Regions from separate parts of the Homo sapiens genome. Here all the other regions are reported to be linked to region 4. The links are microRNA targets in miRTarBase. Many come from high-throughput screens and were not tested one by one. Region 4 holds a microRNA gene; each other region holds the end of a gene's coding sequence.
What was found. The annotated mature microRNA hsa-miR-6771-5p reads CUCGGGAGGGCAUGGGCCAGGC and lies in region 4 at 2,697-2,718, opposite strand. An mRNA with a match to its seed (bases 2 to 7 or 8) in the 3' UTR can be bound and repressed. Matches are read on the target gene's strand: a 7mer-m8 pairs with bases 2 to 8, a 7mer-A1 pairs with bases 2 to 7 and ends in A, and an 8mer does both.

Region 1: the mRNA of RGS9BP is a reported target of hsa-miR-6771-5p. The part of its 3' UTR that is shown has no 7-base or 8-base seed match.
Region 2: miRTarBase lists EMC2 as a target of hsa-miR-6771-5p. Seed matches in the 3' UTR shown: 8mer at 2,497-2,504.
Region 3: the mRNA of KNL1 is a reported target of hsa-miR-6771-5p. Seed matches in the 3' UTR shown: 7mer-m8 at 5,438-5,444.

The regions. Positions count from the first base shown.
Region 1 is chr19:32,676,495-32,683,608 of GRCh38, forward strand. It overlaps RGS9BP (regulator of G protein signaling 9 binding protein), which reads left to right. Exons shown (of 1, transcript NM_207391.3): 1 at 1-1,806. The coding sequence ends at 477. Among named protein-coding and RNA genes, the nearest start is that of RGS9BP, 4.2 kb to the left of the region's middle. RefSeq lists an enhancer at 1-50.
Region 2 is chr8:108,485,919-108,493,038 of GRCh38, forward strand. EMC2 (ER membrane protein complex subunit 2) reads left to right here. Exons shown (of 11, transcript NM_014673.5): 11 at 594-3,278. The coding sequence ends at 680. Among named protein-coding and RNA genes, the nearest start is that of EMC2, 46 kb to the left of the region's middle.
Region 3 is chr15:40,661,511-40,668,623 of GRCh38, reverse strand. KNL1 (kinetochore scaffold 1) reads right to left here. Exons shown (of 26, transcript NM_144508.5): 26 at 4,282-6,550. The coding sequence ends at 6,436. Among named protein-coding and RNA genes, the nearest start is that of RAD51-AS1, 30 kb to the left of the region's middle.
Region 4 is chr16:50,288,219-50,295,338 of GRCh38, reverse strand. MIR6771 (microRNA 6771) reads right to left here and starts at 2,723; the gene lies at 2,664-2,723. ADCY7 (adenylate cyclase 7) reads right to left here. Exons shown (of 26, transcript NM_001114.5): 2 at 6,989-7,120; 3 at 4,679-4,882; 4 at 3,442-3,603; 5 at 2,514-2,663; 6 at 1,837-1,985; 7 at 588-699.

The sequences.
Region 1 (7,114 bases), not on the chromosome of region 4:
CTCTGGGTGGCCTTCTCGGGCTGCCTGGACCTGCTGGAAGCGGACATGCGACGCGCGCTGGAGCTGGGCGCCGCGTTCCCGCTGCACGCGCCGCGGCGGCCGCTGGTGCGCACAGGTGTGGCTGGCGCCTCCTCCGGCGTGGCGGCGCGCGCGCTGAGCACCCGCAGCCTGCGGCTCGAGGCGGAGGGCGACTTCGACGTCGCGGACCTGCGGGAGCTGGAGCGCGAGGTCCTTCAGGTGGGCGAGATGATCGACAACATGGAGATGAAGGTCAACGTGCCCCGCTGGACCGTGCAAGCCCGGCAGGCGGCGGGCGCCGAGCTCCTGTCCACGGTCAGCGCCGGCCCCTCCTCGGTCGTGTCCTTGCAGGAGCGCGGGGGGGGTTGCGACCCCAGGAAGGCCCTGGCCGCCATCCTTTTCGGCGCCGTGCTGCTGGCGGCTGTGGCCCTAGCCGTGTGCGTGGCGAAGCTGAGCTGACGGACACCCGACGGCCGCCTGCTGCTGCCGCTCCCTCCCCTGAGAAAAGACTCGGGATGGGTGTGGGGTCTGGCCTGTGCAAGGGGAGTGGTCCTAAAACCCCGTGTGTGCATGGGTACACGCGCGTTTCCAGTGCACATCTGCCTGGGCAGGACACGGTTTCCTCTTGCTGGCCCGGGAGGAGTTAACTTTGCGCCGGCCGTCAGGGCATTACCGCTAACGTCTGCAGGAGCTTTATTCCCTATTAATAGAAAACCGTCACAGTGACCCTAGATCCCTCCGAGTTAATGAGTTAACACATGTGCTGTTGGGGCGTCTTTACAGGGAGTCCGAGTTCGGTGCCCACCCCTGCCAGCGTCGCCCCCTTTCTGCGTGGGACAGTTTGAAAAGGTGGGTGGGGTGGAGTGAAGTTTGGAGAGGGACGCTGTTTGGTTCTATGTGGTTGGTCTGTTTCCCGGACAAGAAAAATTGCAATCAAATGTCAGCAGCTTTTATTACCTTAATCTTTCAGGGCCTAAATTTAGGAGAGTGTCCCGAGAGCAGTTCATACAAAGGGCTTTCTCTAAGACGCGCTACAGCCCTTCCTAGCAGAGTTTATCCATTCGTCCCCAAGAGCAGCTAGAAGAGATTTGAGGTCATGACCTCCCACTGCCGCTCAGGGGCTGACCCTATTTAGGAAACCAAAGAGGGTGGGTTGAACCTACTCTCACGGACTTGGATCCAGTGCGCACACTTGCCTGCGGAAAAGGGCTCTCCCCAGCCACCCGGAGATGGGGGTAAGAGGAAGAGCAGAGGCTTGGGGTAGGGCCACCTGGTGTTTAAACAGGCACTTTCTCCTTCTCTGGGGCTTATTTTTGTTCAGAACTAGACCAGAGTGTTTGAACCTCCTTTGCAGGAGGGCTGGGAATCCTCTTTAGAGCACTTAATCCTATTTATCCCCTGGAATGTGCGTGCTGGCCAGTAGGAGGGCTGGCTTTGGCAGCTCCCTGACCCCCGCGCTGCCCGCCCCTCCGGGGTAATGTGGCATTACTGGCCCACAGAGGTTTTGAGCCAATCAGCTCTGAGACTGGGTTAGAATGTAACAGCTTTAACTTGGGATTTAAGAAGCTTTTAAAAGGTAATAATACTCTGAAAGAAAAATGACGTAACCACAGCGTGTACTATGAAAGCTGTTATTTTAATAAAGAACGCTGGGCCATGAACTCATACCTGCCAATGAGTCAAACATAGTATCTTTATGTAGATACTTAGATTACTAAATATATATTTCATCTACTTCTGAAGTTGATAGTCTTCCCCCCCCCCCACTTTTTTCTTTTTTGAGACAGGGTCTCCCTCTGTCACCCAGGCTGGAGTGCAATGGTGTGATTGTGGCTCACTGCAGCCTCCAAATCTCGGGCTCAAACTATCCTCCTACTTCAGCCTCCTGAGTAGCTGGAACTACAGGTGTGTGCCACCGCACCTGGCTAATGTTTTTAAGGCAGTTAATTTATTTATTTATTTTTATTTTTCTTTAGAGATAGGATCTTGTGGTGTCGCCCAGGCTGGAGTGCAGGGGCGCAATCAGCAAACCACAGCCTTGAACTCCTGGGCTCAAGCTCTCCTCCCACCTCACCCTCCCAAGTAGCTGGGACTAAAGGTGTGCATCACGGCACTCAACTAATTTTTTGTAGAGACAGAGTTGGGCTATGTTGCCCAGGCTGGTCTCAAACTCCTGGCCTCAAGTGGTCCTCCCACCTAGGCCTCCCAAAGTACTGGGACTACAGGCATAAGCTACTATGCTCAGTCTAAAATCAATATTCTTTATTTTTTTCTATAATTTCACTGCAAAATAAAATCTATATTCTTGAGTAGCCACACAAGTGTAAATGACAGAATGTTAAGTGGCCTTTAATTCTTTTGATCAACAAGTAAGAAAATGCTTGGTCCTTGGTCCCAGGATGACATCTGCCTGAGCAGTGCTGCCAAATCCTGCCTGTGGTCCAGAGAGAGCTCTGTCCCATTCTTGGGTAAGTTAGGCTGTAAAAACAGATGCATTTAACTTTCTTTTCTTTTTCTTTTTTTTTTTTTTTTTTGAGATGGAATTTTACTCTTGTTGCCCGGACTGGAGTGCAGTGGCGTGATCTGGGCTCACTGCAACCTCTGCCTCCTGGGTTCAAGCAGTTCTCCTGCCTCAGCCTCCCGAGTAGCTGGGATTACAGGCGATTGCCACCATGCCCGGCTAATTTTTGTATTTTTGGTAGAGATGGGGTTTCACTATGTTGGCCAGGCTGGTCTTGAACTCCTGAACTCAGGTGATCTGCCCACGTCAGCCTCCCAAAGTGCTGGGATTACAGGCGTGAGCCACCTCGCCAGGCCACATTTAACTTTCTAAAGGTAATTTGCAATAAATTCCAGAGACTTTGGCTGAAAACTGACAAGGATTTTTTTTTTAATTCTTTTTTACCCCAGAAGTGAGAACAGGGGTGACCAGGGGAAAGGAATTGGCCATTTTTCACATGGGCCGCTTGGAGGACCAAGGGGCAGAGGTGGATAGCAGAAGGGATGCTGTCAGGACACCCAGACTTAAGATTCACTCTCCCCCCAACCCCCCACTATTCCTCAGGAGGACCAAGAGATTCCAGCAGCTCAGATAGGGCAAATGTAGGATCTGTGTTTGTGTCTGTGATCATGCTTTTAAAAGACCCACAAGGTCTTAAGCTGATTAAATGTTTTGCAATTACTTTTTTTTTTTTTTTTTTTTTTTAAGATACTGGGTCTCTATGTTACCGGGGCTAGAGTACAGTGTCACAATCATAGCTCACTGAAGCCTCAAACTCTTGCGCTTGAGAGATCCTCCTGTCTCAGCCTCCTGTCTGGGACTACAGGCGTGCACCATCACACCCTGCAAATTTTTAAAATATTTTTATTTTTTAGTTCTTGTACAAATGGAGCCTTCACTATGTTGCCCAGGCTGGTCTCAAACACCTGGGCTCAAGCAGTCCTCCCACTTCAGCCTCCCAAAACCCTGAGATTTATAGGCGTGAACCACCATGCTTAGCTGACAATTACTAATAACAAGAACCTCTTGCTTCACCCAGTGTGGGTGAATCTGAATAGGGGCCACTTCAAATTCTTTTGCACCTGGTTGCCCAGAGTGCCTTTGAAAATGACATAGAACGTTTTTAAGCCACTCCTCCCACATATGGACTCTCTCGTTACCTTCCCCAGAGTCTCATCTCTGGCAAGAGAAGGCTGGGACATTTCATTACCCTGTGTTGGAAAATATACCTAGGCCAGCACAGTGGCTCAAGCCTGTAATCCCAGCACTTTGGGAAGCTGAGGCAGGTGGATCACCTGAGGCCAGGAGTTCGAGACCAGCCTGGCCAACATAGCGAAACCCGATCTCTACTAAAAAATATAAAAATTAGCCGGGCATGGTGGCACATGCCTATAGTCCCAGCTACTCAGGAGGTTAAGGCAAGAGAGTCGCTTGAATGCAGGAGGTGGAGGTTGCAATGAGCAAGATTGTGCCACTGCACTCCAGCCTGGGCAACAGAGCAAGACTCTGTCTCAAAAAAAAAAAAGAAAGAAAAGAAAATGTATCTAAAAATGAAGTCCTAAAGGTATTCTACTGTTTCTAAGACTGGGAACCTTTGTTCTTATCAAGGTGTTTCGGGTTATGAATTTTTTTTTTTAAAATGGTTTAGCAGAACCTATTGTTGAAACAACCCATCAGATGTGTGTTTCACTGAGGGCAGTGGGAAAAACAAGGTTTTTCTTTTTGAGACAGGGTCTCAATCTGTCACCCAGGCTGGAGTGCAGTGGTGCAATTGTAGCTCATTGCAACTTCAAACTCCTGGGCCCAAGCGATCCTCCTTCCTCAGCCTCCTGAATTGCTGGGACTACAAGCTTGCACCACCATGCCCGGCAGGATAAACAAGTTTTTGTTGTTGTCACTCTTTCTACCCACTTGGCTGATCTTTGGGTATTTAGTTATATGTGGATCAGATGTGTACTTGATTCTGAAGGTCTTCTGCTCGCTGAAATTAGTGATAAAATATTGCAAAAAAAAAAAAAGCTGAATTACAATAAATATACTCACCCTGTTGGACCTATTAACATAAACAGCTCTTTGAGTTTGAAAATTTTAAGTATTAGGGGTATTTGGTATTATTTGGAGTTATGACATTGCCTAATAGAACTTCTGCTATACGACAAGCAAAATCACTTTCTGCCTTGTGCAATAGGCTGCTCTCTAACTAGTATCTCTGCTCTCATTTTTATATGTAATGCAAGAGATTGCTTTCTAATAGAAGCCTGATTAAATTGAGATGTTTGATGCATAAGTCATTAATTTTCTGTGAACATTTAGTATGACCTTAAACTATGATACAAGTGTAGGAAAAAAAAACAAAAAATTCAAACTGTGTTAGCTGACACTGAAAAGACAAAAACTTGGAATGTCAAGGCTTTTATCATGGAAACTTTGATTTCAGAAGAATGTGATCTGGGCTTTTGTTATTAGTAAAAATAATATTTGTAGGAGAAAAAAATGCCTGGCAAATTATTTTTATGTATTCTAAGAACATATGCTTTTTTTCTTTTCTTTTCTTTTTTTTTTTTTTTTTTTTTTTTTTTTTTGAGACAAGGTCTGGCTCTGTCACCCACGCTGGAGTGCAGTGGCACAACTTTGGATCACTGCAGCCTCCACTTCCTGGGCTTAAGTGATCCTCCTGCCTCAGCCTCCCAAGTAGCTGGGATTACAGGCGCCCAGCTAATTTTTTTTTTTTTTTTTGTAGAGATGGGGTTTCACCATGTTGCCCAGGCTTGTCTTGAACATCTGAGCTCAAGCAATCCACTAGCCTCGGCCTCCCAAAGTGCTGGGATAACCAGCATGAGCCACCACGCCTAGCTGCTTTTTTTTTTTTTTTTTTTTTTTTTTGAGACGGAGTCTCGCTCTGTCACCCAGGCTGGAGTACAGTGGCAAGATCATGACTCGGTGCAGCCTTGAATTCCTGGGCTCCAGTGATTCTTCCACTTTAGTCTCTCGAGTAGCTGGCACTACAGGTGCATGCCACCACACCCAGCTAATTTATTTTAAAAATTTTGTGTAGATATGGGGTTTCCCTATGTTGCCCAGGCTATCTTGAACTCCTGGGTTCAAGTGATCCTCCCAGCTCTGTCTCCCAAAGTTCTGGGATTACAGGCATGAGCTATTGTGCACAAGCTAAGAATATGTGCTTTTAAATCCCATAAGGAAAAAAATATTTTTGGTAAATAAAATTAAAGCATAAATATCATGATTTACCTGACGTTTACCGTAAGCAACATAAAAGATATGTGATACTGAATGACTAAAAAGTAGTTTTGGTTAAAGAGAGTTCTAGTTTCCATGAGGACTCTGACAATGCTGCATTTTATTTTGCTTTTTAATGTGCACATTGGTACATGTTTAACTACTCTACTCCTGTTCAAAATGTACTTCTCTGTTCTGCAATGAATGCTTTTTAAGGGTGCGAGCCCCAGGGCGTGAAATGAATGTGGTAGAACTGGCCTCTACATTTCTTTTGGGTGTGTCTCCTCCTGCAAGGCCTGGCCAGCTGCGATGGGCAGAGGACACTGCCTCGCTCTCCAAGTACCTCAATAAGTCATTGACCTACTTGTGCCTCATGTCTCTCATTTGCAAAATGAGGGTCCTACCTGATTAACTCAAAGATTCCCCTTCTAGAGCTTAAAACATTGAACAAAATGCAGTTAAACAAGAAAGGGCTATGTTTGTTGGTTTTGTTTTTGTCTTTTTTGGTGTAGTTGGTTGGTTTTGTGTATAATGGAATGGAATCATATCATTTGCTGGTTATTGTCTAATATTAGTTTCAAAAACTAATAAAAATACTTTAAACTTCAAATTAATTTTCAAAATCAGAAGTAACTAAGCATATCATGCTTTCAGTGCACATCAGAATTAGTGTATGGGCTTAAAAGCAAATGTGTGTAAATGCTACTTATTGGTAGTATTTAAATTAGATTAGGAATTTAAATTCAGGCTCTAAGTCGGAGTCTAAGAAAGCCCACTGATTATTAAAACAGTCTGTTTTACCCAGCAATCCAGGCCACCTGAACATCAGAGCCTGGGAAACAGTAGATAGGAAGCTCTGTCATTTGTCTTGGAGGCTGGGAGAATCCTATCCCATAAGTAACTTGGTAGCCTTAGAACTGCATGAGCTGCTTTACCACTGGGAAACACGAGCACAGCCTAGCTTGATTTTGTATGTGGTATCAGATCTAAGGTGGATGGAATTCAGGACTTCCTGTCTACTCTTTGATTTTGTTTTATTTTTAGAAATGTTTTATTTTGTTTTATTCATTTATTCATCTTCAGAGACATGGTCTGGCTCTGTTGCCCAGGATGGAGTGCATGGTGTGATCATAGGCCACTGCAGTGTTGAGCTCCCAGGCTCAAGCGATCCTCCTGCCTCAGCCTCCTTAGTAGCTGGGACTATAGGCACATGCCCTACCATGCCTGGCTTTGTCTACTTTTTGAATGATGTCTCAAACTAGAAGGTCTATTAATTTAAAAAATTAAGGATAGCATGCCATAATTAAAAATAATAACAGTGGGAAAAGGCACCTTCCAATGATTCAGACATCAACTTGT
Region 2 (7,120 bases), not on the chromosome of region 4:
CATTGTTTTAATGTGTAGCATAGGTTTTTACTTGACAGCTCTTTGCAGAACCATATCATTTAGTTAACTAATAAATCTGGAAACTTAAAAAAAATTATGAGCTACTTTAAATAATTTTAGAGAGTACTTGCAACTTTAAAATGTTTAGTGAAATAACTTGTATTTGTATTGTACCTTTGTTTGAAATTGTAAAAATCTGTTTAGACATCAGACAAGTGGAAGTGGTTCACACTGCTACACTACATAAATATAAGCTAAATTGCATTTTAAAATTATACTTTTTATTTCATTATTTTGGTCTGAATAAGATAGTTTCAAATACATGATTTTATGGGTTATTATATTATGTAAACACTTAAACTGGCCAAGTGTGCAGTGAACTCTCTGTACACTTCAGCTGAAGGTAAGACCTTAAAGGAAAATGTCCTTAATACTCAAATTTTATTCTTATTGAAAAAGCAAAGAATATATTTGATTTCCTACTAGTGATAAAATAGTCAATGTTAAGTTTCATTAACAGTGTGAAGATTGTCATTTTTAACCTGCCACTGAAATTGAGCCTAATTGAGCTTTTTTTTTTTTTTTTTAATTAGTTTGCAGGTCGAAGTAAGAAGGAAACCAAATATTCTCTTAAGGCTGTCGAAGACATGTTGGAAACATTGCAGATCACCCAGTCTTAAGGTTTCAAAAACTCTTTGACATTAGATTTCACAACTGCACAATTGAACTTATTGGCCTGTAACTTATTTACTAAATGCTCAGTGCTATTTATATACTACAGTAATTTTCTGTTAAGAAGGCAGTTGTAAAGAATGTGTTTATATAAACCTAAAAATGCCTTTTACTGCTAAGTGGGGAGATGGGGGAAATCCATGGAAGAGAGATTTAAGACTTATTGATTGTACATCAGTCTCTTCATATCACATATACATGTATATATATAAAACTCTAATGTAGTATAACCTTGTTAAATAAACCATGATGATTTATTAAACTTGCATATGAAGATTCTAACTTCATTTTGTTATACTCACAGTGGATATATTGTTTAAGAACTCAGTTTCTAGTTAACTCCTTACTGGTGATAGCAAAGTCACAGCATATGTAGCTGACCGAAGCAGATTATTTTGACTTTGTTTATATTGTCGAATTGGATTTTGCTGTACATTCCAGTGGGCTATTTGAATTGTTTTATCTGCTGTAATATCCTTCTGATGAATCTTGCTTAAAATATGTCATTCTCCAAAGTTCAGCAATATTTCTTTGTAAAATTTTTGTTTTGATATAGGACATAATTGAGATTTTTACATATAAAATGCCTTAAGATAAATATGTGTTACGACACTTTAACTTTTATGCAAGTTATATTTATTGAATCCTTTAATAGTAAATTACATGAAAGAATATTAAAGAATCATAAAGAGTAGGGATTAAAGGGGTTGTAGTTATTTTTAATTTTGAAAAAAATAAGAAAATTAAAACTATCCTTAGAAACAAAAATGTTAAAATTTTCCTATTCTATCATTACCTTAGTTAGAATTTTTTATTTTTCTCTTTTCATAATAAACAACCATTATGCTACCTTCAACAGTATTTGACATGTTTCAACAAAATAGAAGAGACTTGAAAGTTAAATTTCATTTAGACACAAATCAGTTTTTAAAATAGCAACTGTTCACCGCAAATATTTATGGTATTTGTTTATAATAAATATATTTAAATTTATTTTTACTAAAAATATACAGAGGCATCTACAGACTTGTCATTGCTGCTTTGGACAAGTGGGGATTGTGGAGGAATTGACAATCTAGAAGTGTTTAGAAAGAAAAGTATTGTCAATATCAGCTTCTTTTAACCTTTTGAATAGTTCTGCTAATAAATTATTCTCCATATCTAGTCTAATCTTTCATATTACAGTCATTTTCGTTTTATTCTGCCACGAGTAATAGGCAGCTGATTAATATATTCTGTGAAAGAACTCTTCTCATCTGAAGGTAATTCTCTACTAATCTTTATTACCACAAAGATCCCGTCTTTGTACACATGAAATTAGTAACTGCATTTTCAACATGATGAACCATTTGAAATTTACATTTTCTGTAAAGAAAATAGTGCCTGCACGTTGTTTCACTACCTTTTCCCCTTCAAACCTCCTCCCCGTCAGTCACTGGATTAGTGTTTACTCTAGCAATTATATTTGTGTAATAAGTAATTCAGTGCCTCTTATAGCTGTCTGCCTTAGTTTCACTTTTTTTTTTTTTTTTTTGAGACAGTCTCGTTCTGTCACCCAGGCTGGAGTGCAGTGACGTGATCGCAGCTCACTGCAACCTCCTCCCGGGTTCAAGCGATTCTTGTGCCTCAGCCTCTGAGTAGCTGGGACTACAGGCATGTGCCACCATGCCTGGCTAATTTTGTATTTTTAGTAGAGATGGGGTTTCACCATGTTGGCCAGGCTGGTCTGAAACTCCTGGCCTCAAGTGATCTACCCGCCTCAGCCTCCCGAAATGCTGGGATTACAGGCATGAGCCACTGAGCCTGGCCAGTATCACTTTATTTTTTCAAAATTTTAATAACTTCTTTCCAAGATTTTATATTTGTTAAGCACATTGCCAATCCTTAGTTATTTATAAACTTCAACTTAAATGTACTGATAATCCCATTACAGCAGGCAGTTGCCTACAGCTATTACCTTTATTTCTTCTTTAGCAGTACCTTAGTTTGATCTGATAGTGGCAAGGATCCCTCTTCCTCAAAGAGATTAGGACCTTACCCCAACTCCAGAGGTTGCACCTTCATTGATCTGAAACAGAAGTGGTAGTTTAATTCTGTATAGTCTGATTAGTACGAGGCAGAACTTTTTGCAGTGAAGGAAATCAACCATCCATTCTGTCTCTCTATTGTGGTAGCTACTAACCATATGTGATATTGAGTACTTGATATGTGACTACTGCAATTGAGAAATTGAATGAAATGAACAGAACCCTACTGAGAAGGGCTTTCCTTTCAAATTAAAAAATCAGAGCTTTGTGTGGTAACAGTCATTGCCTCTTTCTCCTCTTTCTGGCCAACAGCATGCCTAAAGGTGCAGCTGCCATCAAACAACCATGAAACAGCAAATGTGAGAATGAAAGTTACATTTCAGAGATAGAACTGAAGGAGGATTAAGGGGATCCTGGGTCCCTGATATGGCATTGTTGAACACCCAAATCAAGATGAGCAATTGCCAAACTCCCCAATTATTAAATGAGAAAAAATAAACTCCAGATTGTTTAAGACACTGTTTGGTTTCCTGTTACTTTAGCCATGTATGTTTCTGACTAATATATCTGCTTATCTACTCTTCAACATTTTTTAAGTGTAAAACTCTTATTTTAGACATGTCAGGGATGCTATTTCAGAATCTAATCATTTAAAGCAAGGAGATAATTCCATATAACGAAAGAAGTAATGTCTTAGTGCAGCTCAGCTCCTAGCATTCTAAGCCAACAGAGGTGAAAAGGGGACATATTTACACAGCTTAACCATAAAAATAATACTGATTTGGGGGCACAAGAGGATGTAGAGAAAAATATAAAGGGAAGACCAGTATTTTAGTATGCTGCAAGCATATACTTCAACTTTTTATTGACAAATATTTCAATTAATCTTTTTGTCTTATATACTGTAGCCCACATATCATCAAAGTAACTTCATTTTAATTCATTTCATAGAACCATAGGATTTTAGACAGGACTTTGGAGATGATTTTGTTGTACTTCATTTTAAGATGAGGATATCTGAGGTTCAGATAAATTAACCTCTTGTGTTACAGAGCATGGACCAGACCCAGGATGTCAGGGGTTTCCAAGTCAGCATTTTTTCTGGTATCCTCTGCTGCATCTGGCTATCTTGTGATGTTCTAATTTTAGAGTGACAAAAATGAGAACCAGTTATATGCAAGGATCATAGCTTGTTAGCAGATCAGGGATTATAATTCAGATGTTCTGATTTGTAAAACAATTTTTAATTAAATAAAAAGGTAAATTATATTTTAATTTAAATTGTGTTTAAATTATTTAAGATGTTATTTCATTTACAGTAAATATGAGAACGATTTCAAAATATTTAGAATATAATATAATGCCATTTTGCTCCCTCCCCCTCTGCCCCCATCGTTAAAACTCTTGCTGTTTTCCATTTATTGGCTCTTAACATGGCCTTTGAGGGTCTATATAGTATCAGAATCAAGGAGAGAATTTAGATTTCTTTAATTGTAAATGATGTCCTTCCACTTTCCCACACTTTGAATTCAGGTACACTTAAAGTCCATGAAGTTGTTATACTTCCTTCTTCCACAAACATTCAGCATCTACAAAATAATATATGATGAAAGACTAAATGCGTTCCTCTTAAGATTAGGAACAAGATAAGGATATGCACACTCACCACTCCTATTCAGTGTAGTACTTGATATCCAGTGCAATAATATAAGAAAAGGGGATAAAAGGCACAGAGATTGGAAATGAAAAAATTAACTTTATATTTGCATTTAACATTATTTTCTACATACAAAGTTCTAAGAAATCTCCAAGAACTTACAAGAACTAGTGAATTTAGTAAGATCACAGAATACAAGATCAACCACACAAAAATCAAATTGTATTTCTATATGCTAATACCATTTACAATTTCAAAATGTAATACTAAGTATAAATCCAACAAAACACCTACAGGACCTTGATGAAGAGTCAAACTCTAAAATATTGAAGAGATTTATTTTGAGCCAAATATGAGTGACTAATGGGCTGTGACACAGCCCTCAAGAGATCCTGAGAACATGTGCCTAAGGTGATTGGGTTACAACTTGGCTTTATACATTCTAGAGAGACGTAAGACATCAATCAATACAGGTAACATGTACATTGATTTAGCTTAGGAGAGTGGGACAACTGGAAGTGGGGACTTCCAGGTCATAGACAAATCCAAAGATTTTCTGATTGGGAGTCGGTTATTATTGATAGATACTGGTGTCTGGGATATGATAAGGGGTTGTGGAAACCAAGGTTTTATGCAGATGAATCTTCCAGGTAGCAGTCTTCAGAGAGATAATAGATTGTAAATGTCTAGACTTAAAGAGTCTGAAACATAACCATTTATATGGATTGGAAGACAATATATTAACTAAGTTGCCCCCAAGTTGATTTATGGGTTTAATACAAGTCCTATAAAAATCCCAGAAGGATTCTTTGTTGAATGATTCTGATTCTAAAGAATCGGAATAAAGCTCATTCTAAAATACATTAAAAAGCAAAGGAACTAGAATATCCTAAGCAATTTGAAAACAATGTAGTTGGAGGAATCACACTACCAGATATTAAGACACATAAGTACAGTAATCGGGACTGTGATATTGGTACTGATTGTGTGGTTTTGGTAGTGATAGACACATAGCTCAGTGATAGACGCAGAATAGAGTACAGAAATAGACCTACACAAGTATGAAAAACTAACGTCTGACAAAGGTACATAAGCAATTCAATAGATGAATTGTGTTAGAAAAATTGAATTTCGAACAAAGGGTGTTGGAACAATTGAATAGTCATAGCTAAGAAAGAAAAACCTCAACCTCAACCTTCTACCTTATAAAAACTTTTACTCCCTAGGCATGGGGGGCTCGTGCCTATAATTTCAGCTAGTTGGCAGGCTGAGGTGGGAGAACAGCTTGAGGCCAAGAGTTTGAAACTAGGGTGGGCAACATAGTGAGAACCTCTCTCTAAAATTTTAAGAAATTAGCTGAGCATGGTGGCATGTACTTTCAGTCCCAGCTACTTGGGAGGCTGAGGCAGAAGGATCACTTGAGACCAGGAGTTTGAGGCTGTGGTGAGCTGTCATCACACCACTGCACTCCCGCCTAGGCAAGAGAGCAAAACCTTGTCTCTAAAACAAAAATTAACTCAAAATGGGTCATGTTCTTACTGTAACATATAAAACTGAAACTTAGAAGCAAACAGGAAATCTTGAGCAAGGGTTAGGCCAACTGGCATTAAAATTCCTTAAAAAAACATTGAATTTTGTAAAAAATAAAAACATTTTGTAGAAGACCCTGTTAAAGAGGATGAAAAGGCAAGCCATAAACGGAAAATATTTGCAAGCACATGTTCAACAGAAAACTTATGTCCAGAATATATAAAGAACTTGCAAAATTTATTAGGAAGAAATAATCCAATTAGAAAATGGGCAAAAGACTTGAACAGACACTTCATCAAAGAAGCTGTACAGATAATAAGCACATGAAAAGATGTTCAGCATCATTATTAATAGGGAAGTGCAAATTATAACAAGATACCATTGAACACCTATTAGAATAGCTGGTAATAACACATGCTGAGATATGCAGAGCCACTTTCAGACATTTTGTCTGAAATTGGAAATTTTACATTTCCACCACAGGTTTAGCTACCTGGGAGGTGGAGGTTGCAGTGAGCTGAGATCACGCCACTATACTCCAGCCTGGGTGACAGAACGAGGCTGTCTCAAAAAAAAAAAAAAAAAAAAAGTGAAACTAAGGCAGACAGCTGTAAGAGTTACTGAATTACTTATTACACAGGTTTAGCTACACTGGAAATCAGTTTGTCATACACTTTTATATTACAACTGTCATGCACCTTTTATTGGGAGAGTTTATCACTTTAATTATATTTTCAGGTGATTATCTGTCTCTCTTAGTAGATTCTTAAGTTGCATGAGGGCAGAGACCCTATATGTTTTTGTCCATGTTTACCTTTTTAGTTTCTAGCATGATGCTTGCATATGGTATGTATTTGAATGAATTAAAAATACTGTGCACATTTAGGTATAGTTTATTTAACAAACCTTACTTCCAGAAGTAGCTTAATTCCACTTCTTCACTTAGTTCCCTACTAAAAGAAACTGCAATCAGGAAGTCACTTCAAAAATCCAATCTGCAGGCCAGGCATGGTGGCTCAAGCCTGTAATCTCAGCACTTTGGGAGGCCAAGGTGGGCGGATTGCCTGAGGTCACGAGTTTGAGACCAGCCTGGCCAACATGGTGAAACCCTGTCTCTACTAAAAATACAAAAATTAGCCAGGCCTGGTGGCCAATGCCTGTAATCCCAGCTACT
Region 3 (7,113 bases), not on the chromosome of region 4:
AAATACAGTTAGATAGAATGAATAAAATCTAGTATATGATAACATAAGGTGATTAAAAATTTTTAAAAATAATTATATGTGATACTAAGTTTAGCATAAAAACAGATTTTAGACAGAATCAGTTTATATATCATGAAATCTTTGTACTTAGCCATGGACAACAATATTTTCCATCTTAGTCCATTTTCTGTTGCTTGTAACAGAATACCTAAAACTCAAGTCATTTATAAAGAAACAAAAATGTATTTCTTACAGTTCTGGAGGCTGAGAAGTCCAAGGTTGATGAGACACATCTGATGAGGGCCTTCTTGCTGATAGGGACTCTGATGGGGTGCCTGTTGGCAGAGGGCACCACAGGTCGAGGGAGCTGAGAGTGTTAGCTCAAGTCTCTTTTCCTCTTTTTTTTTTTCTTTTTTTGTGGGGGACAGGGTCTCACTCTCATCTAAGCTGGAGTGCAGCGGCATCATCTTGGCTCACTGCACCCTCTGCCTCCTGGGCTCAAGTGATATCCCCACTTTAGCCTCCCAAGAAGCTGGGACCACAGGTATGCACCACCATGCCCTGCTAATTTTTGTATTTTTTGTGCAGATGGGATTTTGCCATGTTGCCCAGGCTAGTTTCAAACTCCTGAGCTCAAGAGATCCCCCAACCCGTTCCTCGGCCTCCCACAATGGTGGGATTACAGGTGTGAACCACCGTACCTGGCTCTCTCATCCTTTTTTTTTCTTGAAATGGAGTCTTGCTCTTGTCGTTCAGGCTGGAGTGCAGTGGTGTGATCTCAGCTCACTGCAACCTCCACCTCCGGGGTTCAAGCAATTCTTTTCCCTCAGCCTCCTGAGTAGCTGGTACTGCAGGCAGGTGCCACCACATCCAGCTAATTTTTGTATTTTTATTAGAGATGGGGTTTCACCATGTTGGTCAGGCTGGTCTCAAACTCCTGACTTCATGTGACCTGCCCACCTCAGCCTCCCAAAGTGCTGGGATTACAGGTGTGAGGCACTGCACCTGGCCAGCCTCTCTTCCTCTTCTGAAACAGCCACCAGTCCCACTCCCATAGTAACACATTAATCCATTTCATGAGGGTACAGCCCTCATGACTGAATCAGCTCTTAAAGGCCCCACATTTCAATATTGGCGGACTGGGGATTAAGTCTCAAGAGTTTTGGAGGGGACAAAACATTCAAATCATAGCAATTGCTTTCTCATAACATTGATTCCTGCAATAATGCTCTTATGGTAATGTGAATGTCAGTTGTGTTTACAATAAAGTATATGGATAAATGTGTTAAGGTTTCATTAATAACAATTAATAAAATGCTGTGATGGTGTTTATGTTACACTAGATAAGAATTGCTATGTAGAAGTCTCTTGTGTTTGGTTAGTGCCAGTCTGAACACCTTACAGAGCTCCAGTAAAGTTTGACCCAGGAAAATATTTTAGACAGAATCTGCTTATGCATTGTGAAATCTGTGTATTTACCCATAGACAACTGTGGTGGCAAACCTCAGCGATCTCAGTTCACTGCAACCTCTGCCTCCCGAGTTCAATCGATTCTCCTGCCTCAGCCTCCTGAGCAACTGGGACGTAGGCGCGCACCACCACGCCCGGCTAATTTTTGTATTTTTAGTAGAGACGGGGTTTCACCATGTTGGTCAGGCTGGTCTCAAACGCCTGAACTCGTGATCCGCCCGCCTTGGCCTCCCAAAGTGCTGGGATTACAGGCGTGAGCCACTGCGCCCAGCCATTTCCTGGGGATTAAAATATCTTACATCATGATTTTTTCCCTAAATATTTCTGGTGAAATATTTTTAAAGGAGTGAAATGTATATTTTTGCCACTTGGGATTTATTCTGTCATTCAGTCTAAAAACCTTCTTCAGCTGTGAGTGTAATTAATCTCAGCTATAGGTCCTACCAGGCTCAGTCTGATTTGTTATTTACGTTCCTTTTTCTTTTTTTTTGGAGATGGAGTCTCACTCTGTCACCCAGGCTGGAGTGCAGTGGCGCCATCTCAGCTCACTGCAACCTCCGCCTCCCAGGTTCAAGCAATTCTCCTGCCTCAGCCTCCCAAGTAGCTGGGATTACAGGCATGTGCCAACACGTCCAGCTAATTTTTGTATTTTTAGTAGAGATGGGGTTTCACCATGTTGGCCAGGCTGGTCTTGAACTCCCGACCTCAAGTGATGAAGCACAAAAATACAGTTAGATAGAATGAATAAAATCTAGTATAGGATAACATAAGGTGATTAAAAATTTTTAAAAATAATTATATGTGATACTAAGTTTAGCATAAAAACAGATTTTAGACAGAATCAGTTTATATATCATGAAATCTTTGTACCTCGGCCTCCCAAAGTGCTGGGATTACAGGCATGAGCCACCGTGCCCAGCCTTACTGTTGCTTTTCACAAACTTTAGAACTGAAGAAAATTTTAGGCCAGCTGTGGTGGCTCACACCTGTAATCCCAGCACTTTAGGAGGCCAGTGTGGGTGGATTACTTGAGCCAGGAGTTTGAGACCATCTTGGGCAACATGTTGAAATCACATCTCCACAAAAATTAGCTGGGGGTGGTAGTGTGCATCTGTAGTCCCAGCCATTCGAGAGGCTGATATGGTAGGATCGCTTGAGCCCAGAGAGGTCAAGGCTGCAGTAAGCCATGATCGTGATACTGCACTCCAGCCTGAGTGACAGAGAGAGACCCTGTCTAAAAAAAAGAAAGAAAAAATTTTAGAAGCAAACATATTAATGCTGGAATCAATCTCTTGCCCCACAAGTATTTTTTATTTGTGGAGCAATCACCTTCAAACTCTTGTTCTTCAAGTCTGATCTGGATCTTTGGGGCTGAGCTCTGTTATGAAGTCATGTTCTAAGAAACAGTAATAATCTCACTTTCTTATTGACCAAAAAAGACATATATATTTGAGACTGGGCACAATGACTCAGGCCTGTAATTCCAGCCCTTTGGGAGGCTGAGGCGAGAAGATCATTTGAGCTCAGGAGTTTGAGACCAGCCTGGGCAACATAGTGAGACTTGGCCTCTCAAACAAACAAACAAAAAAAGACATAAATATTAAAAAAAAAAAAAAAAACAAAAAAAAAAAAACAGATTAGGAGAAGAATGAGTGATAAACAACATTACTTAGAAACAAATATATGGGGCCAGGCATGGTGGCTCACGCCTGTAATCCCTGCACTTTGGGATACAGAGGCAGATGGATTACCTCAAAAAAAAAAAGAAAGAAAGAAAAGAAAAGAAATATATCATAAGTACTTGTTAAAAGAATGAAAATAGGCTGGGCACAGTGGCTCATGCCTGTAATCCCAGCACTCTGGGAGGCCGAGGTGGATGAATCACCTGAGGTCAGGAGTTTGAAACCAGCCTGGCCAACATGGTGAAACCCTGTCTCTACCAAAAATACACAAATTAGCTGGGTGTGGAGGTGCACGCCTGTAATCCTAGCTACTCAGGAGGCTGAGGCAAGATAATCGCTTCAACCTGGGAGGCGAAGGTTTTGGTGAGCCGAGATAGGCCACTGCACTCCAGCCTGGGTGACACAGCAAGACTTCCGTCTCAAAAAAAAAAGAATGAAAATAAATGAGCTAGGTACCTACCATCACAAGAAGTTAGAAAAAGAATAGCAAACTGGGTGCAGTGACCGACACCTATAATCCCAGCAATTTGGGAAGCTGAGATGGGAGGATCTCTTGAGCCCAGGAGTCCGAGACCAGCCTGGGCAACATAGTGAGACCACATCTCAAAAACAAGAAAAATTTTTATTTTTTAATTTTTAGATGGGGGTTTCACTCTTGTTGCCCAGGCTGGAGTGCAATGGTGCGATCTCGGCTCCCTGCAACCTCTGTCTCCCGGGTTGAAGCAATTCTCCTGCATCAGCCTCCCAAGTAGCTGGGATTACAGGCATGTGCCACCATGACTGGCTAATTTTGTATTTTTAGTAGAGACACGGTTTCTCCATGTTGGTCAGGTTGGTCTCAAACTTTCGACCTCAGGTGATCTGCCCACTTCAGCCTCCCGAAGGGTTGGCATTACAGGCATGAGCCACCATGCCCAGCCAAGAAAAAAAAATTTTTTAGAGATAGGGTCTTGCTATGTTGTGTAGGCTGGATTTGAATTCTTGGCCTGAAGCACCCTGCTTGAACTCGGCCTAATCTCAGTTTTGAATAGGTAGGTGTCTCCAGAGGAAGGTTTCTTTGGTATATCTTCAAAGGTCTATTGGATAAATGCTAAAATATTCTTTATAAAGAAACACTACTCACAAAAGATTTAAAGTAATAAACTTATTTTAATAGTGCAAAATGTAATCTGCTTTCCAACCAATGAAAGAAAAACTTTCAAAAAATTTATGAAACTAGTCAATACCTTGAACAAAGAAAAACACAAATAACTAAGTAAATATTACAATTGTGTACTCCAAACCCAAAAAAGCAGAGACCGTCATTACAAGCCAAATCTTTTTTAGAGTTGGTTGTTGCAGGTTACTAAAATGCGTAAAACAAAATCTCTACTTTTCAGACTTACAGAAAAGAAATAACTCCAATAAGAAAGCTAACTTAAGTTTCATGGGAAACAGATCATATTGATGACTTTAAAATGTTTTTCAAGGAGTTTACGGAACAGAACATCTATATCTTGATTTTTATGGCAAATGAGGTTTGTCTTGACTTTTGAAGCTTATGTGTCTTTTGACGTATAGCTCAGAAGTAAAAACCAATCAAGAGGGACAATAACATTCAGGGGATCCACAGGACTTTAACCTGATCCAAAAATATAAAGCAAAATTTTGAGACAAATTAGCTTAAAAATGCAAATGTATTTTGGTTTATAATTAAATATAAAACAAAAATTATCACAATTAGGATTTGAATGAAGTTTGAGTAAATTTTTTTGTCTACTTCATACATAATATTGGTCATTTAATAATATGTATGACAAGGGTATGGCATCAGAAAACAATACTTACAGCAAGTCTATTATTACTGCTAGAAATTGATGAAACTAGTGTTTTGGATGTGACATTGTTTGACGTGTCACTATTTAATAAAAGAAAATAGAAAATTTTGCTGTAAAACATTCTTCAGAAAATTGGGAACTGCCTAGACAGATGAGTATCTATATACCTCAATGAATTTCTATGTACATCTCCTTACTACATCACAAACACAAAAACAACATTAATATATTTACATATATGTACTAGACAAAAATGAATTAACTTTCCCTAGAAAAACTATACTTATTAAGAAAACATTGCTGGGTGTGGTGGCTCACACCTGTAATCCCAGCACTTTGAAGCCGAGGCAGGCGGATCACGAGGTCAGGAGATCGAGACCATCCTGGCTAACATCGTGAAACCCCATTTCTACTAAAAAGACAAAAAATTAGCCCGGCATGGTGGTGGGCACCTGTAGTCCCAGCTACTCGGGAGGCTGAGGCAGGAGAATGGCGTGAACCCAGGAGGCGGAGCTTGCAGTGAGCTGAGATCATGCCACTGCACTCCAGCCTGGGCGACAGAGCAAGACTCCGTCTCAAAAAAAAAGAAAAAGAAAACATAATAGACACCATAGAATAAAAAGCAAGGCCTTCAAAAAAAGATGGCAACCATTTCAATAGCTGAGTGCTATTGCTTTCTCTCTTTTTGTTTTTTTGAGACAGGGTCTTGCTCTGTTGCCTAGGCTGGAGTGCAGTGGAATGGTCTCGGCTTACTGCAACCTCTGCCTCCTGGGCTCAAGTGATCCTCCTGCCTTAAGCTCCTAAGTAGCTGGGACCACAGGCGCAAGCCACCATGACTGGCTAACTTTCGTATTTTTTGTAGAGGTGGGGTTTTGCCATGTTGCCCAGGCTGGTCTTGAATTCCTGGACTCAGGCTATTCACCCATTTTGGCCTCCCAAACTGCTGGTATTACAGGTGTGAGCCACCGCACCCAGCCCTACTTTCTCTTAATAGCATTTTAGTAACGGAGAAAAAGGATAATAGTTTGTAGACAGATACATTTCTACTCCAGAAATATCTGCTAGGCAGAAGCCAGGCAACCTAAAAAATCATAGCTCTATCTAGTTATGGGAAAATGGCTAATGTTCTTGTCAGTGATAACACTTCTTATACTTAAGTTAATCCTTAGGGCTTGTACTAAAGCAGAAAGCACTAGTTTAGTTAGGAGACATTTTTCCTAAGTGTCCTATTACTTAAACCTTTGGTACAAAGATGAGTAAGTTGATAGTAGGCTATGAGGCCTACCATCCAGACTTCATCACCATCATTCTGCAGAGATATAAAAAACATACAGATTAACTATAACATCATCAGAAGGAATTTTACTCAGCTTGTAATGACGTAAAAACAAAGGCTGAACAGCAATGGGACCCTGAAATAATATCAAGTACATTCTGCTTGGTTGTTCCAATGGTGGTCCAAGGGTCTAGTGGTAGAAATGGCAGTCCTGAAACAGATCTTGGTAAATTTGCTTGACTACATTCTTCAGGTAGTTGTTCTCCAGTGGCACTTTAGATAGAATGGTAGCAATATCATCTTGGCTGGAAAGAACAAAGGTTAATCAATTTTCTTTTTTGCGACGGAGTCTCGCTCTGTCGCCCAGGCTGGAGTGCAGTGGCGCAATCCGCTCACTGCAAGCTCCACCTCCCGGGTTCATGCCATTCTCCTGCCTCAGCCTCCCGAGTAGCTGGGACTACAGGCGCCTGCCACCACGCCCGGCTAATTTTTGTATTTTTAGTAGAGATGGGGTTTCACTGTGTTACTCAGGATGGTCTCGATCTCCTGGCCTTGTGATCCACCCACCTCGGCCTCCCAAAGTGCTGGGATTACAGGCGTGAGCCACCGCGCCCAGCCAGGTTAATCAATTTTTTAAAAAATCTTACACTTGTCTCTAATTCAGTGGAATTTATGTTCTTGGTCTCTCAGTTTCCTAGGAAGCACAAATGAGCATTTCTGGAAATAACCAGATATCCAGTTTGAAATGGGATTCCAAAACAGGGCCTAAGAACCAATTCTATATGTAATTGTGAAGTATCTTAACCTAGCTACTTTTGTTGGTCATAAAAAATCTTAGTCTTGGTGTTTGCTGACAAATATAAGGTGA
Region 4 (7,120 bases):
GGCGTGGTGGTGCATGCCTGTAGTCCCAGCTACTCAGGAGGCTGAGGCATGAGAATCACTTGAGCCTGGCAGGTCGAGGCTGCAGTGAGCAGTGATGGCACCACTGCACTCCAGCCTTCATGACAGAATGAGACTCCATCTCACAAAAACAAACAAACAAAACGTAAAAGTTTAATGTGCACATGATTCACCTCAGATCCTGTGAAAAGCAGCTTCTGGGTGAGGCTGGGCATTCCACAGTCCTCCTGAGCTACCAGGTGAGTGGAGGCTGCTAGCCTTGCCAGTGAGGATGGAGCCATCTCCTCCTCCTGAGCCCCCATCTGAGCTCCAGAGCCCCAGTATATCGCCCAGTGTGCACTGTCAGTCTCCCCACTGGCCTGTCACTCTGGGGGCACAGGATCCTGGCTGCCGTGGCCACCACTCACCCCCACCTTTACCATGGGGCGCTTGTGTTTGCTGGCTGGATGCTAAAATTCAGCCACGCCTCCCCATCCCAATTCCAGCAGGGCACTGAACACAGGACACCCCTGGGGTGTAATAGGCAGGGGAGGGGCCTGGCTTTGCCCATTGTAGGCCAGCGGGCTCACCTTGGCGATCTGGTCGAACTTGCCAAAGAGCTCATTCAGCACCACCACCAGCTCCTTGGGAGAACAGTCGCTGGCCAGCTGCGTGAAGCCCACGATGTCCGCATAGAGGATGCTGGGGATGGGGCAGGGTGGGAGGGAGTGTCAGAGCCAGGCTCCTAGACAGCAGCAGCAGGAGCACGCAGGACTGTCTGGAGCCCCAGGAGCCTGCCAGGCCTGAGCCCATTCACCCCCGTCCTTCCTCAGCCTCCATAGGGATGGGAGAGTCGCGCCCAGCCATAGAGACAGATTAAAGTTCCAGGGGCTTCACGTTAAAGCAGAAGGGAGCAAAATTCAGAGCCTACAGGAGCCCTCGGCCCCACCCCAGGCCCTATCACTGCAGACAGCCGAAGGGCACTCCTGCAGGCAGCCCGGAGCCTTCCCCTTTCCCATCCAATGTTCACCACAGCACAGACTTCAGAACTCCCTGGTGAGAGGCAGCTCCATGCTCCCTCAAGCCAACCTCCACACCCAGCACTTTACAGGCATCGAGTCCTCACACAGCCCTTGCCGAACTCCCGTTCTACAGATGCACAAACTGAGGCTCCAGGACATTGAGACTTGCTGGGAAGCCAAGAGCTGGCATCTGCACCAGTTCTCCCTGCTCCAAAGTCCTTAAGCTCATGGACCATCCACAGCCCAGAGAAAAGGCAGCGGGCCAGCCTTGGATGTAATGCTGGCGCTGCAGGCAGAGGACCCAGGGGGTCTCCTGGGACCCACATCTACACTCAACGGCACCCAGCACCCACATCGACACTTGACAAACTCAGGTCAGTGCATTCAAGTAAAATTTTGTGGTTCCCTGCAAATCAGCCAAAGACAGGTGTCAGAACCGGGGCACTCTTGGGCACCAAGGCCGGGGGGCTTTACCTCATTCTGGGGGTCCTGTGCTCCCTTGAGAACCATCTGAAAGGACCCCTTCCTTCACAAAAGCTATGTTTGCTCACACAGTTTTACAGTTTTGGGGGTGTGCTAGATCTTTCAATACCAATCTAAATTCTCTAATTTAAGAGCCCTGATCTGATCCTGCCCACAAGTGGGGGTTCTGAGACCCAGGGAGGGCCCCAGATTGACCTGGAACCATGGGGCCCTCTCCCAATCCCTATATGGGCAGGGGTCTGAGCCTCCAGATAGGGCGGGGAGGCCGCCTGGGGGCCGGTGGAACGGTGGGCCCAGTCCCCGGGATATGCTAATCACACGTCTCACCGCCCACCTGACATTCTGGTGCCTCTTGACGTAGAGGCTGTGGAAGTTGTTGTCAGGCATGCAGCGACGGTCACCATGCTCCTTGAGCCGTTCGATGATGGCCAGCTTCATGCCCATGGAGATGTGGGCCGGAAGCACTGACAGCAGCAGGTTCTCCTGGGTGTGGGTGGGCAGACCAGCAGAGGGACCAGCAAAGCGACCGGCGGAGGGACCAGCGGGGGACAGGCAGGGTAGCATCAGGTCCCAGACCTGGCCTCCTTGGCCCCCATCCTCCCTGCCTGCCTGCCCTGCCCACAATGTCCCCATCTCTGCTCTTGTCCTCCACCAACCCAACTGAGCATCTACCTCCCATGTACCCAGCAGCCCCCGGGACTCAGGGTGACTGAGAAAGGGCTCTTTCAGCTGGGGAGGCTAAGCTGATGGGTGAGCAGCCTGGAGCCACTACGGCCTTCTCTGCCGCCACCTGGGGACTGCGTGCCCAGGACTGAAACCACACAGAGGAAGGCAGAGTCAAGGGTCAGCAGGCTATGGTTACCCTGCTGGAGCCCAGGACTCACCGAGGTGAGACCTGCATGGGTGTCTGGCCATGCACCTCATGCACATGGCAGCATGAGTGTCTCATGTCCAACAGAAAGAGGAAGAGGACAGGGGTGTACAGGGTGAGGAGTGGGGGCCGGGTCCCACCTGCTGGCGCTTCTCGATGCGCAGCTTCCGGCGGATCTGGATGCACTTCACAGTGTAGGTGAAGAGGTCCCGGGATGCATCCTGCATTTGGTGCTTGTGGAAGGCGCCTGTCAGGTTCCCACACAGGAAGATGACTGCGTTGGCCAGCAGCTGCGGGTAGACAGGGGTTTGGCTCATTATGTGGCCTGGCCCATGCCCTCCCGAGGCACCAGACCCCTAGGCGGACTAGTGATGGCACCTCTTCCCATTCCCTGACCTTCAACCCACTGAGAATGGCACTCTTCCTGGGGCAGACAGGGAAACTGAGGCCCAGACAGGAGCTAGTCTCCTAGTGAGTCACTAGGACTGCAAGACCAGGACACCCAGGGAGGCAGAAGAGACCACCTCACAGAGCCCAGGGCCCGAGGGGCATGCGTGCTAAGGGCAGTCCCAGAGGGCACAGCGCCCAGCTGGCTGTGTGGAGGGCCAGCCTCTGCCTGGAGAGGACACCAGGCCTGGTCAGAGGGAAAACACTTCTCTAAACACCCAATAATTATGAACAGAAGATTCACTCATTCAACACAAAGACACAAGGCAGTGCCCTGGGGTACTCCCCCAAGCCCCGCCAGGACAGGGCCTTCGAGGGGAAACTTCGGCAATGGGACTCACCCCACGACAGTGTCCCTGAACCGGGAGGCAAGGCCTGAGGTCACGACCCTGAGGGCTGAGCCACAGGGGAGCCCTAGGCCAGCAAAGCAAAGGCCAGAGGGCAGGGCCACGCCTGGAGCCCAGCTTCCGAGCAGACGTGGAGAGGGCCCGGCCTTGGAGCGGGCTGTCTGCAAACACGGCTCCGGGGCCTTCGGGTCTGATTCACCCAGAGGGGGCCCCCCCATCTGCCCTTAGACCCAGACCACAAAACCTCCCCCAGAGGCCTTAGCCCATCCCTCACCTGCAGCCCCACCCGGACACTGGGTGTCGTGAAGCCTCCCATCAAAGAACCGAGCACCAGGAGGTGGGAGGCAGTGGAGACGGCCCCAACGGCGACAGCGCCCCGCATGCTGAAGGGCAGTAGTGTGTACACCACGAAGACAATGAACAGGAAGAAGGGCACCTGTGGATGCAGCCTGGTGAGCCCGGTGCCCCAAGATGCTGCCCCAGGCCGTACAGCCCCCGGAACCCTGCACCACAGCAGCCCACCCAGTGCGTATCCTTAGGTTGGCTCCCTCGCCACCCCCTGCGTGGGCAGACATACAAGGGAACAAGAAAAGCCATAATGTGTTTCTAGGGTGGGCCCGGCCACAAGGTTCATGGTTTCCTGTGCTGATCCACTGCCTGTGGCCACCCTAGGTGGGAGGCTCCATGCCCCGCGTGATCCAGGGAGCCCCCACCTGGTGCCCCTGCCACGTGGTTCTCGCTCAGCAGAAATGATTACCGGGAGGCTGAGGCACCCTCTCACCAGCTGCCTCCAGCAATGCGGCCCCACCCGCCCTCCCTCCACCCCCAGAGCTGCCCCACCATCCCCACCGGCTGGTCCTGCGTCCACCCCTCTGGGAGTGCTGCCCTCTCCCTCCCCTTCAGTCCACATGGTTTCCTTGGGCCTCACCCCACCCTGCCCCAGCCACAGGAGCTGTCATAGGACCCAGGCCCACTGGTCAGAGTGTGCTACCGCTTGGTGACAGCCTCTCTGGGACTGGGCCCATGACCACAGCCAGGCCAGTGTGGCTCAAGCCTGCAGGTCGAGCTGGTTGAGAAAGGGCCCTCTCTCTCAACTGGGGTGGGCAGCCTGGAGCCGCTGTGAACTTCTCTGCCCCCACCTGGGGACAGCGTGCCCGGGGCCGAAGCTGTCCAGAGGCCCCAGTTCCAGTTACCCACTGGAGCCCAGCACTGACCCCTTGGCCTTTCCTGACACAGGAACCAGTTTGTGCCTTTTTGCCTCTTTGAGCTGAAGTTCTGTCATCTCCAACCAAACTGGAGCCACCCAAAAGTGCTGCAGCCCAGCGTCCGAGTGGATGCTCTCCCCACCTCAGCCCTGTCAATGCAGAGAACTCACAGGGACAAAACCAGCCTGGGGCCATCCTAGACACACAGCCAAGCGTGGGGCACGAAGGGCCTGTGGCATGCCCACCAACCACGGGGATGGGAGCTGCTGAAGGCGCAGCTGGCAGGGAGTCCAGAGTTCCTGTTACCTGCTCCCACGCACAGGCCGCCTTTGTCCATGCGTCGAACACCAGCACATAGCCCAGCGCCACCAAGCAGGCCCAGGTGAGCAGCGCCAAGGCCCTGAGCCAGCGCCGCAGGAGACACTCGACGTACATCAGCACAGAGAGGGCCGCAAACACCGCCAGCACCAGGAACGCCATGCCCAGAATGGCCTGGTGTCTGGAGGGGTCCTGGGTGGAGCAAACAGACAGGAATGCCTCGGCTTTCCCCAGTGCAGAGCCACCTCCTCCAGAAAGCCTGCCGGGCCGGCTGCCTCACTTACAGCTTCCTCCACGTGAAGGGTGTGGATGCACCCTCCCACACCTGGTTCCCACTCACCTTCTGGCCTTTGTCACCTCTGCCAAGGCTGCCTCAACCACCCCCTTCCCATCATCTCGGGAACCAGAGCATCACCCACAGCCCCGCCCATGATGCCATCACTCTCCATCTGCCTCTGCCTCCTCTCTGGGTTCCCACGGTGCTCTGTGCACAGCCGCAGGTGATACCACAAGCACAGGGCAGGACTCATTCACAGGCAGAGCCTTGTAAAGCCGCCCAAAGAGGACACTGCGCCTGGCCCTCAGTGAGTGAGCAGAGGCTGGTGAGGGATACCAGGAAAAGTCATCCCACAGGGGAGGAGCTGAGGCAATGGCACAGAGGTGGGACAGGACGGGCACAGCATCCGGGAGGTCCGTGGGGGCAGAGGCCTGATCTGGGGGCTGGCACACAGTAGCAAGCATCCTGTGGTTGGTAGCCACATGGATCCAGGCTGCACTGGCAGCTGCTAGGTCCTGGCCACTTCACTCACATAAACACCCTGGAGTTTCTGAGTGTTCTTCTAGAACTCAGCTAATCAAATTTACATTCACTAAAAAGAAAATGGGCTGGGCATGGTGGCTCACGCCTATAATCCCAGCACTTTGGGAGGCCGAGGCAGGTGGATCAGCTGAGGTCAGGAATTTGAGACCAGCCTGGCCAACATGGTGAAACCCTGTCTTTACTAAAAATACAAAAATTAGCCAGGCGTGGTGGCATGGGCCTGTAATCCCAGCTACTCGGGAGGCTGAGGCAGGAGAATCACTTGAACCTAGGAGGTGGAGGCTGCAGCGAGCCAAGTTGGTGCCATTGCACTCCAGCCTGGGCAATAAGAGCAAAACTCTTTTTTTTGAAAAATGCAGTTCCTCAGTCACATTACCCACTTTTTAAATGCTCAATAGCTAAACACAGCTAGTGGCTGTACCAAGGCAAGTGCCTGGGCCGGAAATGACATAGGTGGTGCCAGCCTGGAGAGCTGTGTTAAAAAGGATTCTGAGGCCGGGCACAGTGGTTCACACCTGTAATCCCAACACTTTGGGAGGCCAAGGCAGGAGGATTACTTGAGGCCAGGAGTTCAAGACCAGCCTGGGCAACATAGCGAGGCCATGTCTCTACAAAAACAAACAAACAAAAAAAAAACAAAAGGAGGATTCTGAGAATGTAGACAGGCTCAGTGTGGAATGTAGGGATTGATTAATGATGTCTGCATGGGTACAGGAAGTGAGGGCAGTGATACACAGGCCATCCCTGACCCAGGTCTTCAGTAGAATCGAATTTCATCATGGAGAAAAATGAGAGTAGTTTATCTGGACAAGTTAATGTAATGTCTGAAACCACTCCAGACTTCAAAACTGAATTAAAGTTAGAGAGGCTGGGCATGGTCGTGCATGCTTGTACTCCCAGCTACTCAGGAGGATAAGCCAGGATGATTACTTGAACCCAGGAGTTCAAGGCCAACCTGGGCAACAAAACAAGGCCCAGTCTCAAAAAAAATTTTTTTAAATTAGAAACTTGTCTTCTACCAGTCTAAATGTGCTGTAAAAGACAGAGCATTGGCCGGGCATGGTGGCTCACGTCTATAATCCCAGCACTTTGGGGGGCCGAAGCAGGTGGATCACCTGAGGTTGGGAGTTCGAGACCAGCCTGGCCAACATGGTGAAAGCCCATCTCTACTAAAAATACAAAAATTAGCTGGGCATGGTGGCATGCACCTGTCATCCTAGCTACTCGGAAGGCTGAGGCAGGAGAATTGCTTGAGCCCAGGAGATGGAGGTTGCAGTGAGCCGAGATCATGCCACTGTACTCCAGCCTGGGTGACAGAGTGAGACTCTGTCTCAAAAAAACCCAAAAACAAAACAAAACAAACAAAAAAGCATAGCATTTTACAGAAGATAAGCATTTTACAGAAGAGGCTAAGAGAAGATAGCAGCTTGGCCAAGGTTGGGGCCGAGACGTGAAGCCCAGGGGCTGCCCTCACTCACCCCCTGGCTGAAGGCAATGATGATGAGGGCCACGCAGGCAGTGGCGGCCACCAGCAGGAGCGTGAGCAGCAGCGGCCCATGCTGGCTGGTGAGCTGGTACTTCTCGTAGAGCGCATCTTGGTCAGGGCCCTC